Linked DNA regions of Homo sapiens: region 1 is linked to region 2. A link means that fine-mapping ties the variant in region 2 to the expression of a gene that starts in the linked region. Tissue or cell type: aorta. Region 2 holds a variant in brackets; the other region holds the start of a gene. All regions are shown on one strand. Distances are between the middles of the regions.

Region 1 (9,186 bases), 210 kb after region 2:
AATCTCAAAGAATCCACAAGAAAGCTACTAGAGCAAATAAACAAATTCAGAGAAGTTACAAGGTATAAGAGCAACACTTAAAAATCAGTTGTATTACTACATACCAGCAATGAACAATCAGAAAAGGAATCTTGAAGGCAATTCTGTTGACAATAGCATCTAAAAGAATAAAATACCTGGGAATAAATTTAACCAATGAGGTGAAAGATTTATACACTTAAAATCACAAAGCATTATTGAAAGAAATTAAATAAGACCTAACTAAATGGAATGACACACTAAGTTCATGGAAAGGAGGACAATATTGTCGAGACGTTAATACTAACTAAAGCAACTCATATGGTTTGGCTCCATGTCCCCACCCAAATCTCATCTTGAATTCTAGTTTCCATAATCCCCACAAGCCGTGGGAGGGACCTAGTGGGAGGTAATCTAAGCATGGGGGTGGTTACCCTCATGCTGCTATTCTCAGGATAGTGAGTAAGTTCTCACAAGGTCTGATGGCTTTAGACGGGGCTTTTCCGGCTTTTGCTCTGCACTTCTGGCTGCCACTGTGTGAAGAAGGGCATATTTGCTTCCCCTTCTGCCATGATTGTAAGTTACCTGAGGCCTCCCCAGGCCTGTGGAACTGTGAGTCAATTAAACCTCTTTCCTTTATAAATTACCCAGGCTCAGGTATTTCTTCACAGCAGCATGAGAACAGACTAATACAGCAACCTGCAGATTCAAGGCAATCTCTATCGAAAATTCCAACAGCCATTTTTGCAAAAGTGAAAAACCTCTTCTCAAATTTATAAATTGCAAGGGTACCAAATAGCCAAAACAATGTTGGAGAACTCAAACTTCCAAATTTCAGAATTTACTACAAAAGTACAGTAAACAAAACAGTGTGGTATCGGCATGAGGCATGAGAACAGACATATAGATCAATTGAATTGAACTGAATTGAAAATTCAAATATAATCCTATACATCTGTCATGAATTGATGCTTGACAACAATGCCAAGTCCATCCAATGGGGATCAAATAGTCTCTTCAGTAGATGATATTGGGACAACTGGATTTTGCAATGCAAAAGAATGCAGATGGACCCCCTACTTCACACCACATACAGAAATTAGCTCAAAATGGATCAAGGAGCTACATGTAAGAGCAAAAGCCATAATGCATTTAAAAGAAAACATAGTGGTAAATCTTCATGATCTTGGATTTGGAAATTGATTCTTTCTTAAATATGACACCAAAAGCACAAGCAACAACAAAAAATAAATAAGTAAATTGGACTTTATCAAAATCAAAAACTTTTGTGCAACAAAAGACATTATCAAGAAAGTGAAAAGACAATCTACAAAATGGTAGAAAATATTCAAAAGTACGTATCTGATAAAAGTTTAATATCCAGAATATATAAAAATCCATACAACTTAAGAACAAAAAGACAACCCAATTTCAAAATGGGCAAAGGACTAGAATAGTCATTTCTTCAAAGAAGATTACATATAGTTGAACATAAAAAGATGTTCAACATCACTAGTCATTAGGGAAATGAAAATCAGTACCACAATTACATACCAATTCACATCCACTGAGATAGCAATAATAATAATAATTTAAAAACTGAAAATAACAAGTGTTGATGAGGATGAGGAGAAATAGAAACCCTCACACATTGTTGGTGGGAATGTAAGATGGTGCAGCACTATCAAAAACAGTTTGGCAGTTCCTCAAAAGTTAAAAAAGAGTTACCGTGTGTTCTATCAATTCAACTCCTAGTTATATACCTCGAAGAATCAAAATAGAGACTTAAACAGATATTCATGCAGCAATGTTCCCCATAGCAGTATTCACAATAGTGAAAAGATGGAAACTACCCAAATTTCCATCAACAGGTGAATGAATAAACAAAATGTGACATATACATGCAAGGGAATATTATTCAGCAATAAAAATGATTAAACTTCTGATACATACTACAATATGGATGAATCTTGAAAACATTATGCTAAGTGAAATAAGCCAAACACAAAAGGACAAATACTGTATGATTCCACTTAGGTGAGGTACCTCGAGTCTCATAAAGACAGAAGGTAAATCAGAATTTACCTGGGATTGGTTGGAGGGGAATGGGGTGTTAATGCTCACTGGCCATGGAGCTTCAGTTCAGAGTTATAAAAACATTTTGGAAATAGTGGTAATGGTAGCACAACACTGTGAGTGGAATTAATGGCATTGAATTGTATACTTGAAATGGTTAAAATGGCAAATTTTATGTGATATATACCACTGTTTTAAAAATTAAAAATTAATAAAAGTAACATTACTGAAAACCATTGAATTGTGTACTTTAAGTTTGTGAATTGTATGGCATGTGATTTATAGCTCCATAAAGCTGTTAAAAATAAAAATACAAAATATTCACCTCGAAGTCATGTTTACTGGATGTAACATAGATTGGTTTTTGTTTTATTCTTTTTTTCTCCTTTCCCATTTGTAATAGTTTCAGACTATTATAAACACTTCCATGCTTTTATCAACACTAAAACAATGTTGTCAGTTAATAAGTGAATTCCATTAGAAGTATAAATATGCTCGCTAAATTAAAATTGGAAACTGCCATCAGAATTATCTTAGTTCTGCATTGATCTAGGTCTCTTGTCACACATTCAGAATGCCACTTCGCACAGTATCTGCACGTAATGGATATAAGATAAACTTAATAATAATTTATATGAATGCATGATAAGGGAGAAAAACTTATATGATCCATGCAACTTCCTTTCCTCTACTCAAAATTTCTAAGTCAGTTCCTTTATCATCATTATTCCTAGAGGTGGTTATATTCTTTAGAACCTCAATTCTTACAACTCACTTATTCATTGGGGGAAAAAAAATCAACTGCTTAAGAGCTACCGGCATATTGACAAATACAGTAAGTCAAACATTGCATTTTTTTTTTTTTGGCCTGATGAAGACTCATCATTACACCATTGAGTTTCAGAACTGGCAGGAAACTTTATAATGAAACAAACATTTTATTTCCCTCATGTAAGGATCCACCATTTTAAGTAAAATTGCCTGTGTTTGAATGTCAAATTGACATAGTTGATGAAAATGGAAAATCATAATATTGAACTTGAAATACTAAATGTATAGAGTGACACTAGCAATTTCCTTCATGGAAGAATCTGTGGACGGTGTAATAGTTTACCTTATAAATAAATAGGAAAGACATTAAAATTTAAGTCTAATAGTCCAGGGATTTTCAAGAATGGGAGATATATCTTTAATCTAGGAAAAATAAAAGCAATTTGAGACTACTAAAAAACAAAAGTTGAAGTAGGAAGGATTTGCCATTCCTCACCTTCCAATACTCACACTGAAACCCTTTCTTCTTTTATTACAACTCCACATCCTTACTCTTAAATATCATCTTCCTTCTTTGTAGTTACCCAAATCTTGAAGGCCAGACACCTTCAAATGTTTTTTCATTTTAATAGAAAATTATTTCAGACTTAAAACCCTTTCAGAAGACAAGTAGCTTCAATAATTGAATTAACAGAGCTGAGAATTATATAAATTTACCTGGCTTCTGCCTGCTGACCGTGGTCTGGGTCATCTGGAGTCCCAGCAGTTTAAGACCAAAAATAATTGCTTCATATCAAGATCTTTTGTGTTGCTTCTGCCTCACACCCTTGCAACTGACGGCCAAGCTGGTCCCTTCAGCTCCTGGTTGTATGCTCAGGCTTTGACCATCTGTCCTGTCTAGCCCTGTGGTTTGGGTTTCCTCCTGCTTCCTGATTTCATGCCTGATTTCAGCCTCTTAATTTTTCTGAGCTCTTGGTGTCAGTGTCTGTCTTATCTTTACTTAGTTCCTAATTTCTATTATGTTTTGATCATCCCTACTTCCATGTCCAATTTTTCCTGCTTTGGTATTTTGATGCATTTCAAAACTACACTTCACTCCCTACCCAATCTCAACTCCAAGATCATCCCTGGCTCAGTTCATGCACTAACCATGCTATGTACTGAGATTACTACTCCGAGAATTTAACATAGACTAGTCTTGAATAAAGTAAAGGCAAAGAGTCAAACACAACTTACTCAAATTAATCAGAGCAACTAATAAGCATTCAATTAGTGCTTAAGGAATTAACAGATATTTGTTGACTCAATTCAGACTTTTTTCAATAATAACCCACAAAATAGATGCATATGGCCCTATTCATCAATAAGCAAAATGTACCCGCGGTGAGGGTGAAACATTTAATCTATTGTATATTTAAGCCAGTGGAGATCAGGAAGCTTAAAAGACACTGAATCCACAGGGACAATGTATTGCCAGCCAAACATAATTAGCTAGATTAGACTGTTAGGCTCACTGATGCTGCAGTTTCTTTGAAAAGGACCATGTGGTTTGGTAGATGACAATAGGCAGTTATGCCTATGGCAATTTGTTTTCAGAAATCAAATCAGTAAGAGCCCCCTTCTTGCTACATTTTATTTTGGGATTTAGAATTATATTACTGACAAACATTAATTTTCACTGTATCCTGAATAGGCAAAAAATATACATTATACATACATTATACATTGTGTTATACAATTATCATACATTATATATTTGTTACTCGTGTCATTAAGCTCTTAAAACAATCATCCTGGAATTGGTCTTCCATTCTCCATTGTGTGTGTGTGTGTGTGTACACATGCATGTATAGGATCCTTTCTTATGTGTGTGTGTGTGTACACATGTGTGTATAGGATCCTTTCGTGTGTGTGTGTGTGTGTGTGTATTTAGTTCTTGGTTACTTTTTTTTGTTCCTACGATGGACATTTTTTCTTCATCAGTTGTCACCAAGTAGTCCAGGGCTGCGTGTCTTCTAATAAGTCTATTAATTCTTTTTTTTTTTTTTTTTTTTTTTTTTTTTTTTTGAGACGGAGTCTCGCTCTGTGGCCCAGGCTGGAGTGCAGTGGCGCGATCTCGGCTCACTGCAAGCTCCGCCTCCCGGGTTCACGCCATTCTCCTGCCTCAGCCTCCCAAGTAGCTGGGACTACAGGCGCCCGCCACCACGCCCGGCTAATTTTTTTGTATTTTCAGTAGAGACGGGGTTTCACCGTGTTAGCCAGGATGGTCTCGATCTCCTGACCTCGTGATCCGCCCGCCTCGGCCTCCCGAAGTGCTGGGATTACAGGCGTGAGCCACCACGCCCGGCCTATAAGTCTATTAATTCTTAAGTAAAGTATAAAAGGAAAATAATCATATGGAGCCCAGTTAATTATAGTGAATTATGCACATGTAGTCCAATATGTGATATTACCAAGGGCTTGCTGTTTTTGAGTTTCATGAAACACTACCCTAAAGAACTTTTCAAAACAGTTGTATTTAAATTTGCTGATTAAAATGTTAAAGACTATGACTCATGTGCTACAGATCTTTATGACAGATACTGTCATGGAAAACAGTCTTCAGGATGTAGTGGTTTGGCACTGTGCAGTGTAAAGGACTTCAAGATGGCCTTTCTTTATCACTAGTACAGCTTCATATTACATTGTTCTTTCTAATGTTGGACACTTTGCACTGAGTAATATTTTAAGAAATCAACATTAAGACTAACTTTTGCAATTTCTTTTATTTGCCTGAGTTTATTTGGATCTAAACACTCAGAGTTCAAATTACATTTGCTTTCCTGAATGTGGTTGCCTTGGTGTCCTGCAAAAAATAAAAAATAAAAAACAAACTTTACTTATGGTAATACATTCATGAAAATAAGTGTGCTGGCTAGACAACATGTCTCTCAAAAGTTTCTAACAAACAATAACCTGAAAATGTACTATGGTAAATGTCAATAGTTTTTTATTTTTGATGGCCCTGTGTGCTTTAAGGAAAACCGAGGGAAGTGGTAACTGTGCCTTTGTCAATCCAGTTTACGGGAACTGGAGCAACCCAGAGAAAACAGAGGTAAGTGGCAAGGGTGAACTATATCTTTTCACACATATGCACACACATACAAACACACACACACACACAGGCTGAACCAGTGTTGCTTGATCATGTTTCTACATCATAACTAAAAGAAATGTTTTAGTGGAGTTATTTCAATTGGGGATAGAAAGGAGTTTCCATCTCTATAAATATGCTGTGAGAATTGTCCATTTCAGGACAGTTTCAGTCTGCTTGTAAGATCACTTCACTGTTAAATGGTGTTGTGGTCACTATTTATACTCAAAAAGAGCTGAAAAATCTGGGAAATATCAGTTTAACCCACAGAGTATTAGTCAGCTGCTTACAGTAACTATTCATTGAATGTCTTTCATATTTTATTTTCAAAAACAAAAGAGAGGATAGCATTCTATGTTCTGTTTAAATTTAGGGTGACTAGTGAGGGCCATTACCTGATAACTTAGAAGAGAAAAAACAAATGAGAATGTATTACATCTTCCTTGGCCCTTTTTGGGGCTACCCCTTATTTTTATAAGCAGGGAGAAAATGGCAAGGAAAACCTTTCTTGTTCCTTTTTTAGATTTTTTATATTTTAAGTCATTTTTAGGTATAGTTGACAAAACTTTTATATGTTTAAGGTATACATTATATTTTACTATAGGTATACATTGTGAAGTGATTACTACAATGAAACTATTTAAAATATCTATCACCTCACATAGTTTACTTTGTGTGTGTGTGTGTGTGTGTGTGTGTGCTGAAAACATTTAGGATCTCTCTTAGCAAATTTTGAGTATATCACACATTATTATAGTCACATGCTATACATTAGATCCCCAGAATTTATACATCCTGCACAAAAACTTTGCACTCTTTGATCAATATCTCATTCCTTTCTTTTTATTTTCCCATTCCTTTCTTAAGTAAGTGTTATGAGAATTCATCTGGATATAAAGTAAGTTTAGTTATGACACACCACTTCCGAACTGTAAAAGTTTTATTACATCTGAGTTTAGAGCTATATAAAATTCACTCCTTATAAAATGAGTATTATAGAAAGCTAAAGTTTTAATTATTCTCTTTCTTTATGAAAATAGGTCACAGTTTTTTATCTTGTTCCTGGTTATGAAAATGAGTAGCAAGGTATCAGGTCAGGTGGTTTCTGGTAGTTTAAGAGCCTTGAGTGCTGTGGCCGAAGCCTAACAAAGCACTTGACTTTTTAATTTTTGTGTTTTAATCAATAATGATATGATACACACTTTTAGTATTGTTTTGGTAGGAATGAAAACGGGAAGTAAATGATTTCCTAAAGCACAGAGAAAATGAATTTAGATGATTCGACAAGTAAATCAAGACAGAGTAAAAATGAAAAGGGAGACCTACTTCATGGATAAAAAAACACATACACATTTAAGAAAACAAATGTAATATATCTTTTTGACAAAATAGGATGGTGTAATATAAATATATTTTCATTTTTACTGGAGAAAGAAAATCTATTATTTATTTATTTTTTGAGACGGAGTTTCACTCTTGCCACCCAGGCTGGAGTGCAATGGTGTGATCTCGACTCACTGCAACCTCCACCTCCTGGGTTCAAGTGATTCTCCTGCCTCAGCCTCCTGAGTAGCTGGGATTAGAGGCGCCTGCCACCATGCCCAGCTAATTTTTGTATTTTTAGTAGAGACAGGGTTTCATCATGTTGGCCAGGCTGATCTCAAACTCCTGACCTTAGGTGATCCGCCTTCCTTGGCCTCCCAAAGTGCTGGCATTACAGGCGTGAGCCACTGTACCTGGCCAGAACATTTAATATTTTTTATCCTCAGCTTAGTTTAACTTTTAGTGTCTGAAAGGTACACATGAGATAAGGAATTAAAGTGAGATCTTTTCAATTTTATGTTTTTTGTATTAGTGCCTCATAAACTTGTAGTAACTAAAAAGTGGCTCGATAGGTATTATGGATTCTTTACTTTCTACTGAGATGGATTCTGTTGCATTCAGATTTGTACTTCTCAGCAAGTACAGGAAGGGGCCTCCATCAAAGACCCACCTTTCAACCTGCTTTCAAAATGGTTTCCACTGTGTGTGAGTGTGGTGGTGTAATGGATGACTTGAGAGCACCTCAGAAGTGATTTATGTTTATTTTCTATTTCGATAAAAGAAAAATTCCTTTTTCATTTTCTGTTTTCCTTTCATTATGAATGGCTAAAGAAGAAATCCTGGCACATCTCCTGACCTTTGTGGCTATTTTGATTTCTATTGTTTCAGAAACAAATGACTTTGTATTGATTAAACTAGGTCTACTTTCCCCATCATCAGAAAGATAGACTTCTCTAAGTCTATCTTTCAAACTATGTTTTAAATTATTGGAGAAAACTCTCACATTCTGATACAGAAATGGAGAGAATATTCATGGCAACATTCGTTGGCAATTCATGCCAATATTCATGGCAATATTCATTGTAAGCAACTGCCACGTGCCCATCAGCCAGCTTCAAGGACTGTCAACCCATGGTCATTGTTGTTTCACCTCTACTGCCCTCCATTTCCTCACCCTCCAGAAGGTTTTCAAACAAATTTCAAATATCATTTAATTTCAACTGTAAAGACTTCAGTTGTGTTTTTAAAGGACAAGGACTTTTAAAAATGTAACTGCAGGATCATCCCTAAACATTTAACAAGAATGTCTTGAGGCCATCAAACATTCAGTATTCATCCTACCCCAATTGTCTCATTAAAACCTAAAAGGTTTTCTTTTGGGGTTTTGTGTTGTTGCTATATTTTAAAAATCAGAAATTTTAGAAGGTATATGCATCCAAATGGGTAGATATGGCTCTTAAATCTCTTTTCATCTCTAGGTTCCATTCTGTCTTATTTTTTTTTCTTGCACATTATTTGTTGAAGAAACCAGATTGCTTGTCCTATAGAATTTCCCACGTTTTATATTATATATATATATAATATATATAATTATAGTTTACAGGAAACTTAAATGAAATGGCATTTAAACTTATATAAAATGCTTTTATTTACTTAAAGGCATTGGTTTTGTTTTGTTTTGTCTAACCTAACTATATTCAATACAGAAGGCTTAGTGAAACCAGCACCAGAGAAAGCAGTAGTCGAAATATTGGTCATTGCATTTCCCCACCCGACCAGAGGTGAGGCAGTGGTGCCTAAGTCCTGAGGACCCCAGGATACATGGAATCTAGGCTTGTGTCAGAAACTCAAGCAGTGTGGGCTGT
Region 2 (9,186 bases):
TGGAAGGAGACACTTGAGAAAAGAAAGAGACACAGAGACAAAGTATAGAGAAAGAAAAGTGGGCCCAGGGGACCGGCGCTCAGCATACAGAGGATCCGCTCCAGCACCAGTCTCTGAGTTCCCTCAGTATTTATTGATCATTATCTCTACCATCTTGGAGAGGGGGATGTGGCAGGACAATAGGGTAATAGTGGAGAGAGGGTCAGCAGGAAAACGTGAACAAATGTCTCTGCATCATAAACAAGGTAAAGGAAAAGGTGCTGTGCTTTTGATGTGCACGTACGTAAACATCTCAATGCCTTAAAGAGCCAGCATGTCTCACCTCCAGCCCTAAGGCAGTTTTCTGCTATCTCAGTAGATGGAATATACAATCGAGTTTTACACTGAGACATTCCATTGCCAAGGGAGGAGCAGGAGACAGATGCCTTCCTCTTACCTCAACTGCAAAGAGGCTTTCCTCTTTTACTAATCCTCCTCAGCACAGACCCTTTACAGGTGTCGGGCTGGGGGATGGTCAGGTCTTTCCCTTCCCACAAGGCCATATTTCAGACTATCACATGGGGAGAAACCTTGGACAATACCTGGCTTTCCTAGGCAGAGTTCCCTGCAGCCTTCCGCAGTGTTTTATGTCCCTGGGTACTTGAGAGTAGGGAGTGGTGATGACTTTTAACAAGCATGCTGCCTTCAAGCATTTGTTTAACAAAGCACATCCTGCATAGCCCTAAATCCATTAAACCTTGAGTCGACACAGCACATGTTTCTGCGAGCACAGGGTTGAGGGTAGGGTTACAGATTAACAGCATCTCAAGGCAGAAGAATTTTTCTTAGTACAGAACAAAATGGAGTCTCTTATGTCTACTTCTTTCTACATAGACACAGTAACAGTCTGATCTCTCTTTCTTTTCCCCATATTGTTTACTCCATAGCAGGAGCCCTAAGAATCATATGAATTAAAATCAAATAAATCAAAAAATAAACCAGAAGTGGAATCTACTTGTTTTAACCAAATAGCTTGTTTGCTGAATTCTTGCAGATTAGTTTCTATACCAGATGTATTTATCCGTGTGCAGCAAGAGGTGTTAGCTACTGTAGACACTCCCCGCTGTTCAGCCAACAGGTAGTCCAAAACAATCTTGCTATCTAAAACAACCTTATCAAGAGAATTTAAAGAAATGTACTGGGCAGCCATAGCCTTTGCAATATAGTCAGCTATATCAGTTAGTATTTGAGACTGATTTCTAACCATAACTTTATTATATTTATGCCAAGCCAGGAAAGGAGTGTTCTACCCAAAGATGCTCATTTACAGCTAGAAAAAATCTTATTTATTTTACATTGAAAATTGAATTGTATAGATCAATGATCAGTTTCCAGTTGATTATGGAGTGAGTGGTGCCGTTAAAATGCCTAACCCACATTGGCCTCTTTTTGAGACATGGAGTCAAAAAGATCAGCACACGGCTGATCTTTAAATTCTCTACAAATAAAAATATATCTTCAAGAGCCACAACAGACAGTTCCCTTTAAGATGTCTTGTGATTTAAGGGTCACTAGTAGGAAAGCACTAAAATTTATCCAAGGCTTTATTATCAAATCATAGCATGGTTAGAGCCCATCAACAATTAGGGTTATATATTTGTCTACAAAATGCCAAACTATTTTTTGTTGTTCTTATTCAATTTCTGGCATAATTAACTGCAAAACCCTCATTATATGTTTTGCCTACTGTTAGCTTTAAACAAGGAATATGAATATGTGAATCTAAAAGTCTAACCCTATAGAAGAATCAAACCTGCAATATGAGAAAATGGTCACATTTGGAATATCAGTAACTTTTGTTTCAGGGTGAACTAGAGGATCTCTAAGATCATGTAGGGATATTGGTTTAACATGACATAGTCAACATTCAGTTAGGTTTTCTGCAGAAGTTATCAACTATGAAATCTTGATTTTGGCATTATCTCACCATTTGTAAACAGAAAAGAAACACAGAGAAAAAATAAAAAAGACAAAGTTTTCATAATGAGAGAGGGGAGAAGTTTTGATCCTTGTTTTGGGGAAAGTTGGCCACATCTAGGATGTCATCTTCTTCTGAAGAGAAATCTCCTTGGTCAGTTTTGCCTTGAGGTCTCCAAAAGATGTGCAGTCTTGGAGGAGTCCTCTTGAGTTGAGAGATAGGGAGCCAAGACTGAAGGTTATAAAGTTTTGCTGCAGTATGATTGCTTAAAAGAGCTTGGTATCATTCTCTCCAGTGGGGCTCAGGGGCAGTCTTTCTCTAGTGTCACTTCCAAAAGAGCCATTCTGTGCCCTAGATCATGAAAAATGTGGTTATCATCAGTTGGTGGGTAACAAAGGGCTTTTTTTACATGGTAAACATATACTCTGGCATAATACATTAAAGCTTGGCAATATTTCATCATTTATAAGAACAGGAGATACAGGCAGCTCTATTGTTATGGGCAAAGGCCTCAGTGACTATTTGATAAGATTTCATAATTGGTGCTTTCCAGGGAGAATAGATATTATTGCCATCAAGGACAGCAGTAATACATTTGCCCAAGGCAATCCAGTCTATTCAGTTAGTTTTGCATAATGCCATTGTGTTTGTAATATCTTATTTAACTGTTTGATGATTTGCCCAGTGAAATGAGTGCCTCCATCACTGGAAATTTCTTCAAGAATACCCCATAAAAGAAAAACATTTATAATAACCTCTTAGTTACTGTCATAGCATTGGCTTTCCTATACAGGAAAGCTTCTGTCTAACCAGGAAACATACAAACTACAAGAACACATTGATATCCCATTGAAGGTGGCAATTGAGTTAAATCCATTTGTAAAATTTTAAATGATTTATAGGTAGAAATGCAGCGCCTAAAGACTTGGTTGTCTTCCCAGAATTATGGATTTGACAAACCAAAAAATGCTTACAAACCATTTTAGCAATTTTAGACTAGTCACTCCAAGATTTTTTTTTCATAATTTAAGTCATTTTGAAATTTCCATAATGATTCATGGAGTGCATAGTTTTAAATAATGGAAGATTTAAGGACTCAGGAAGGACGAAGTGGTCATCTGGGTCCTCCATGGGTGTACAATTAACATCGAATTTACTTAATTTTAAATAACACATTTGTTTCTTCATTTCAGGTGTGTAGCACTGTTTATTAAATAGGTTGTCATAGATAATTTGAGTTGGGTCAATCTTACTGTGTTCACTTAAATTGCATATATGATATGGTTTGTATATTTGTCCCCTCCAAATCTCATGTTAAAAGGTAATCCCCAGTGTTGGAGATGGGACCTAGTGAGAGGTGCTTGGGTCATGAGGATGGATTCCTCATGAACGGCATGGTGCTCCATCTCTGGTAATGAGTCCACATGAGAACTCATTGTTAAAATGTGTGTAGACCTCCCCCTTCACTCTCTTGCTTCCTTTCTCACTACGTGATCTAACAGGTTCCCTTTTTCCTTCTTTCATGACCATAAGCTTCCTGAGGCCTCACCAGAAGCCAAGCAGATACTGGTGCCATGCTTATACAGCTTGCAGAACCATGAGCCAAATAAATCTCTTTTTTTTTTTTTTTTGAAAATTATCCAACCTGGCCGGGCGTGGTGGCTCACGCCTGTAATCTCAGCACTTTGGGAGGCCGAGGCGGGCGGATCACGAGGTCAGGAGATTGAGACCATCCTGGCTAACACAGGGAAACCCCGTCTCTACTAAAAATACAAAAAATTAGCCAGGCGTGGTAGCGGGTGCCTGTAGCCCCAGCTACTCGGGAGGCTGAGGCAGGAGAATGGTGTGAACCCGGGAGGCGGCGGTTGCAGTGAGCTGAGATTGGGCCACTGTACTCCAACCTGGGTGAAAGAGCAAGACTCCATCTCAAAAGAAAAGAAAAAAAAAATTATCCAACCTAAGGTACTCCTTTATAGCAATGCAGAATTAACTAACACAGTATCTTAACAATTTCAGTATTGGCTGACTTAACCACGAGAATCTGCAACAGCATTTTCTTGGCATTCAATTAATTAATTCTTGTTCTACTAGATATTGGGTTAGCAATTTAGGTGCCAATCAGTTTCTTCATTAAAATTCTGAGAATTCTTACCTAGTCAAATGATGGGATCTTAAAGTTACCAGAAACCTGTACTTGTTAGAGTCCTTTCCGTGAATCCCCTGAAAGATAAAATATTTTAGGCTTACAGCTGTTTGTAATAGCTTTCAGGAACCTAACAGAATAAAACAATGAACTATCTACAGATGACAAGACTTAAAATGGCCATGGCTTAAAGATCTTATTACAGTTTATTATAGTGCAACTGGCAAGAAAATTTTGTTTTTGCAACATAAAATAATTTAAGGTAATAACTAGAATTATGACTGACAGCATTATACTACAACCATCAGTTTCCTTGGAATTTTATATAATTTCTCAAACACATATTAATAACATATCATACAATATAATTGAAATAAGGTTTAGTATCACTTATTATTTGACAATGTTTCCCATGCCATTTAACATGTTAGATAAGCCTAATTAGTTTTACACCTCTCTTTTAATCAAGAGAAAGAAAAAAATTCTTTTGAGATATTTCTATGGCCTGTAGGAAAACTCCCTAAGTTAGTTCAACGTCAAAAGATCCTAATTTAGACTTTGATTTTGGGAAGTCTTGAAAAATAAGAGGTTTTGAATACTTGATTAAAATAGGATTACAGGGCAATGTGAAACAATGCTTACTCATTTAACTAGAGTGATAATTAAAATATTTAAAGACAAATACAGAAAGGTACATAGTTATAGGAAAGAAAAACCTTAGTTCATTTAATAAACAGAACTCACTTTTCTTAAGAAATGAAAGATCCCATACAGACTGCATGAAGTGTAGGAAATTATCTTGATAAAACACAGAATATTTGTTTCCTAGGTCAATTATCTAAAAGGAAAGCCTTTTACAATTTTCTACTAAAGGCAGACCAATACTCCAAGAAAACCTTGTTGTTTTAACATAGAGGATCAAATTCTTGTTTTGTATCAGTGTACTTTT[G/C]ATATAAATGCTTATTTTTTTGGAAGACTTAAAAATAATTCCCTTCTAATTGCAGCCAGTTTGATCACACATAAAATATCTGTCCATTCCATCTACAATACCCTTATGTCCATTCAGTGTTTGTTTTATACTTTTTTCTTTTTCCCATTTTGAAACAGCCATTTCTTATGCTTTAGGACAAAAAAAAAAATCTTTTTTACTTAACAAACAACAAAAACACAACTTTATACTTTATAGCTTTTCTTACCAAAAGCATAGCTTACCATCTTTATATACTTGGATTTAGAATGGTTTTTCTAATTATTTCTAGTAATTTTAGTTACATGTATGAATTCAAATAATGAACTCTTAGTGACCTTAATTTACAGGGAACACTAGGAAGCAAACAACTGAGCTATATCACACCAGCTTCCTGTAGATTGGCAAATCTATGAATCATAATTTCTAGAAATATGTACTTTTTCATAGTACACTTTTTTTGGTATGACACAGAACATGTGTACTAACAGTTTAAACCATCTTTAGTCCTGTAATGAGAAACTGTAGAAGAGGCAAAATTTTATCTCTGTCCTTTCAAGGTTTTCTTTTAGTAGGTCACTTTAACTTGTTGTTTGTACAGATTTCCCGTAGCCTCAACTTTCTCTTTTTTTTAATTTTTATTTATTTATTTTTTTTGAGACAGAGTCTCGCTCTGTTGCCCAGGCTGGAGCACAGTGGCCCGATCTTAGCTCACTGCAAGCTCTGCCTCCCGGGTTCACGCCATTCTCCTGCCTCAGCCTCCCGAGTAGCTGGGACTACAGGCACCCGCTACAACGCCTGGCTAATTTTTTTTCTTTTTTGTATTTTTAGTAGAGATGGGGTTTCACCATGTTAGCCAGGATGGTCTCAATCTCTTGACCTCGTGATCTGCCTGCCTTGGCCTCCCAAAGAGCTCGGATTACAGGCGTGAGCCACCGTGCATGGCCAACTTTCTCTTCTTGCTGATAAGAACGTTAGAACCAGCTAGTATAAGGACATCATTCACATGGGAATTTTAGATTACTTACACCTATTTAATTCACTTGTTTTTATGATTATGCTTGGATTACTTATGAAGATGAGACGTTAAACAACTAGCTATCGTCTTAAGTTATTTTCATTGCTGACAAATTTTTTAATATAGAGATAACATAAGCTTGTTTTACTAATAAACCTAGGTAGAAAAAGTTGTGCATCTGAATTATGTCTAATGTTGAGAAATCTGGAGATGTACCTGCTTTAATCAAACTCACACACTTTAATTAGCTTTTATTTACCAAAGACTATCCCAGATCATGTAAATTTGAAAATAATTTGTGTTAGTTTCTATCTTAGAGTTTAAGGAATATCTAATTTATGCAAGTGCTCATTTTTTTCAGCCAATGTAAGAGAACTCTTTTACAATTTAATTTTGGCAATCCTGTAAGCTGGTAGAAAAATACCACACATACATAACATATAGACAATTAGACAAAAATATATACAGAGAAACATTTCTTATAGCTTTTATTTGAAAATTTAAACCGTGTTTCAAGTACAATAATATGAAACTCACTAATTTATTAAAGATTTAGAGTCAAATTCTTTTTCTTGTCCGTGGAACAAGATTGCTTTCCTAGATGACTAAATATTCTACTAATATTTGTGGGGAAACTTTTAAGATTTTTTCATTTGTTCAATTTTCAAATATCTTCTCCTCCTCCTGCTCCTCCTCTTCCTCCTCCTCCTCTTCCTCTTCCTACTCTTCTTCCTCCTCCTCATCTCCTCCCTCCCTTCCTCCCTCCCTCCCTTGCTTACCTCCCTCCCTCCCTCTTCCTTCTTCCTTGTTCTTTCTCTTCCCCTTCACCTTCTTCTCCTCCCTCTTCTCCTCCTTCTCCTTCATCATTATCATTTTCTCTATACTTGCATTTTAAAATGATATCTATGAGGTCCTACAGAAGACAGTGTTAAATTTTTACATCTTAAAGTCACAGAGCTTAAACTTTAGGCTTAAATACTGTAGTCTGCCTAAACCAAGAAAGAACGGCATAGCTAAAAGCCCAGTTAAGACAAGATGGCCATGACAAGCACTTAAAACAAAAGTAAGGCTTTTCATGTCATCAGGGGTTTGAGACGAGGGGTTTTAGTTGACCGAGTAATTCCTCTGGTTGAAGCAGGATTGAATAGGAAAAACAGAACTAATTCTAACAAACGTTTTTCTGAAAATGATCCTAATATCAATTGGATAGATTAAGACTGTAGACTTTTGGGGGCTTGACTTGAAATTCCCACCCTGGAAATATGCTTTTTTATCTGAGGGACTGGTTGGTTATTGTCCTGGGAGTCAAGCCCTTAAGTACTTTCTCCAGTAGGGAAACATTCCAGGCCAATGTGAGTGCATTCATCAGATGGCTGGTGAAAACATGGGCAATTTCTTTTCCAATAGCCTGGCTGTTTACAATAAAGGCAAAAATCTCAGGGCACGAGGTTCTAGTTTGAAATCTCTCAGTTTGGGTTTTAAAATACACACAAGGAGGACCTGTTAGTCCCATAGATACAAAGACATGCATCATGCCTTTTCTAAAGAGTTTTCTCGCTGTAGCCAATGTAACTCTAAGTCACCTTTGATAAAGTTCACCCATTTCTGTAGAAAAACACAGATTCTAGGTCCATAGTTCTTATATATGAAATCAGCTGGTGTTCCAGATGGGGGAGTTCTAGATACCTTGGTTACAGATGACCTACAATTTTATGTAGTAACCTTACCTATTGGATCCAGTCCAGTTTTGTTATGAAGTTCAGTATGAGCCTGGGCACAGTCATATCCAGTAATTGTTCGAATAAAATCAGGAAGCTCAAAACACAAATTTGAGGAGCTCAAATTTAAGAGAGAACTCACCCACAGCCTTCACTTGTTGCAAGAGAGCAATGGACTTAATGCTTGGTCACTTGGTGCTTCTGAGGGTCATGGGAGGTTTCCTCCACATCCCACTTCTGACACCAAACTGTTAATTCAGACAAATTAAATTTAGCAGAGTTTATTTTTGCAGATATGACTTATAAATCAGGTAGCACTCAGAACCAGAAAAGGTTCAGAGAGCTCTGCCTGAGTTTGAGCAAGTTTTTATGAGCCAAACACAGAAGCACTTTAGGGAATCCCCTGATTGGCTATACTGCTAGGCATCTGCCTTATTTCGGAATATTGTCATTAGTTGCCTGCCTGTGACTGGCTGAAACACAGCTGCTTATGATTAGCTGAAGCTCTGTTGTTTGTTATACTCCTAAGTTTTATTATAGTTTGTGTACATACTAAGTTAGGTTGTAGTTTGTTTTGCAGAAACTCAAAGAGACAACCTCAGACTAATGGCCTCCTGCTAATTTAATTTAACAACATTAACATGGCAATCTGAATATATCAGCAATTTCAGTGTCCATAAATAACTGTCTTCTGAATTATTGTGCAGATATTATCATTTCTGTTTTATAATTTCCATAGAGAAAAACCAATGACATTCTTAATTTTATATTTTCTTTATCTTTTATGATTTTCTTTTTCTTATATAATGTCAAAGTTGATATTTTATTATTTTTTGAAATTACAGAGTCTCTACTGACCTGTGAGATAGTATTTATGATAGTGTGATAACATCTCTATAATGACATACGTTGCCTTCATAATTCACTCTACAAAATCATCCAGATCTCTATTTCCAAATTTTGTATTAATTGTTACAGGCTTTGCATTTTCAGGTAATGGTGTGAACATTTTTTTTTTTCATAAATACTAAAATACAATTATCTTTGTCAGCAGAAAGGTACTTTTCTTAATAAAATGTTTAGTTGTTTCACTAACAGTCATGTTCTGAAACTTCCTAAATAGAACAAACTTTGGCTTACTACATAATTGGTTTCAATTTTAGTGGCAATTGCCATTCATGAATCACTCACAACCACAGTGAAAATTATGACCATCAGCACTGCCAGTGCAACACTAGTCATAAAGTTGATTTGCTTTAGATGTTTTGCTTTTACAATGAATTAGACAGCATTATCCCTATAATGCTGTTTGGTGTATGTAATGCAGGATCTCACTTTTTAATGATATATGAATGTATCTCGGGTTATTTTAAAAGCTTTCTC

What was found. PIP is the estimated chance that this variant, and not a neighbour inherited with it, causes the effect. A credible set is the group of variants that fine-mapping cannot tell apart.
Region 1: it holds the start of MALRD1-AS1, and the variant in region 2 is the best candidate, but not a certain one, in a credible set for the expression of MALRD1-AS1 in aorta (GTEx, PIP 0.62).

What each region holds. Positions count from the first base shown.
Region 1 is chr10:19,724,823-19,734,008 of GRCh38, forward strand. It overlaps MALRD1-AS1 (MALRD1 antisense RNA 1), which reads right to left and starts at 3,728. Exons shown (of 5, transcript NR_120646.1): 1 at 3,583-3,728. MALRD1 (MAM and LDL receptor class A domain containing 1) reads left to right here. Exons shown (of 40, transcript NM_001142308.3): 39 at 5,884-5,959.
Region 2 is chr10:19,509,854-19,519,039 of GRCh38, forward strand. All of the region lies in intron 31 of MALRD1 (MAM and LDL receptor class A domain containing 1), which reads left to right. Among named protein-coding and RNA genes, the nearest start is that of MALRD1-AS1, 210 kb to the right of the region's middle. RefSeq lists an enhancer at 396-963. The variant G/C (reference allele first, on the strand shown) is at 5,050.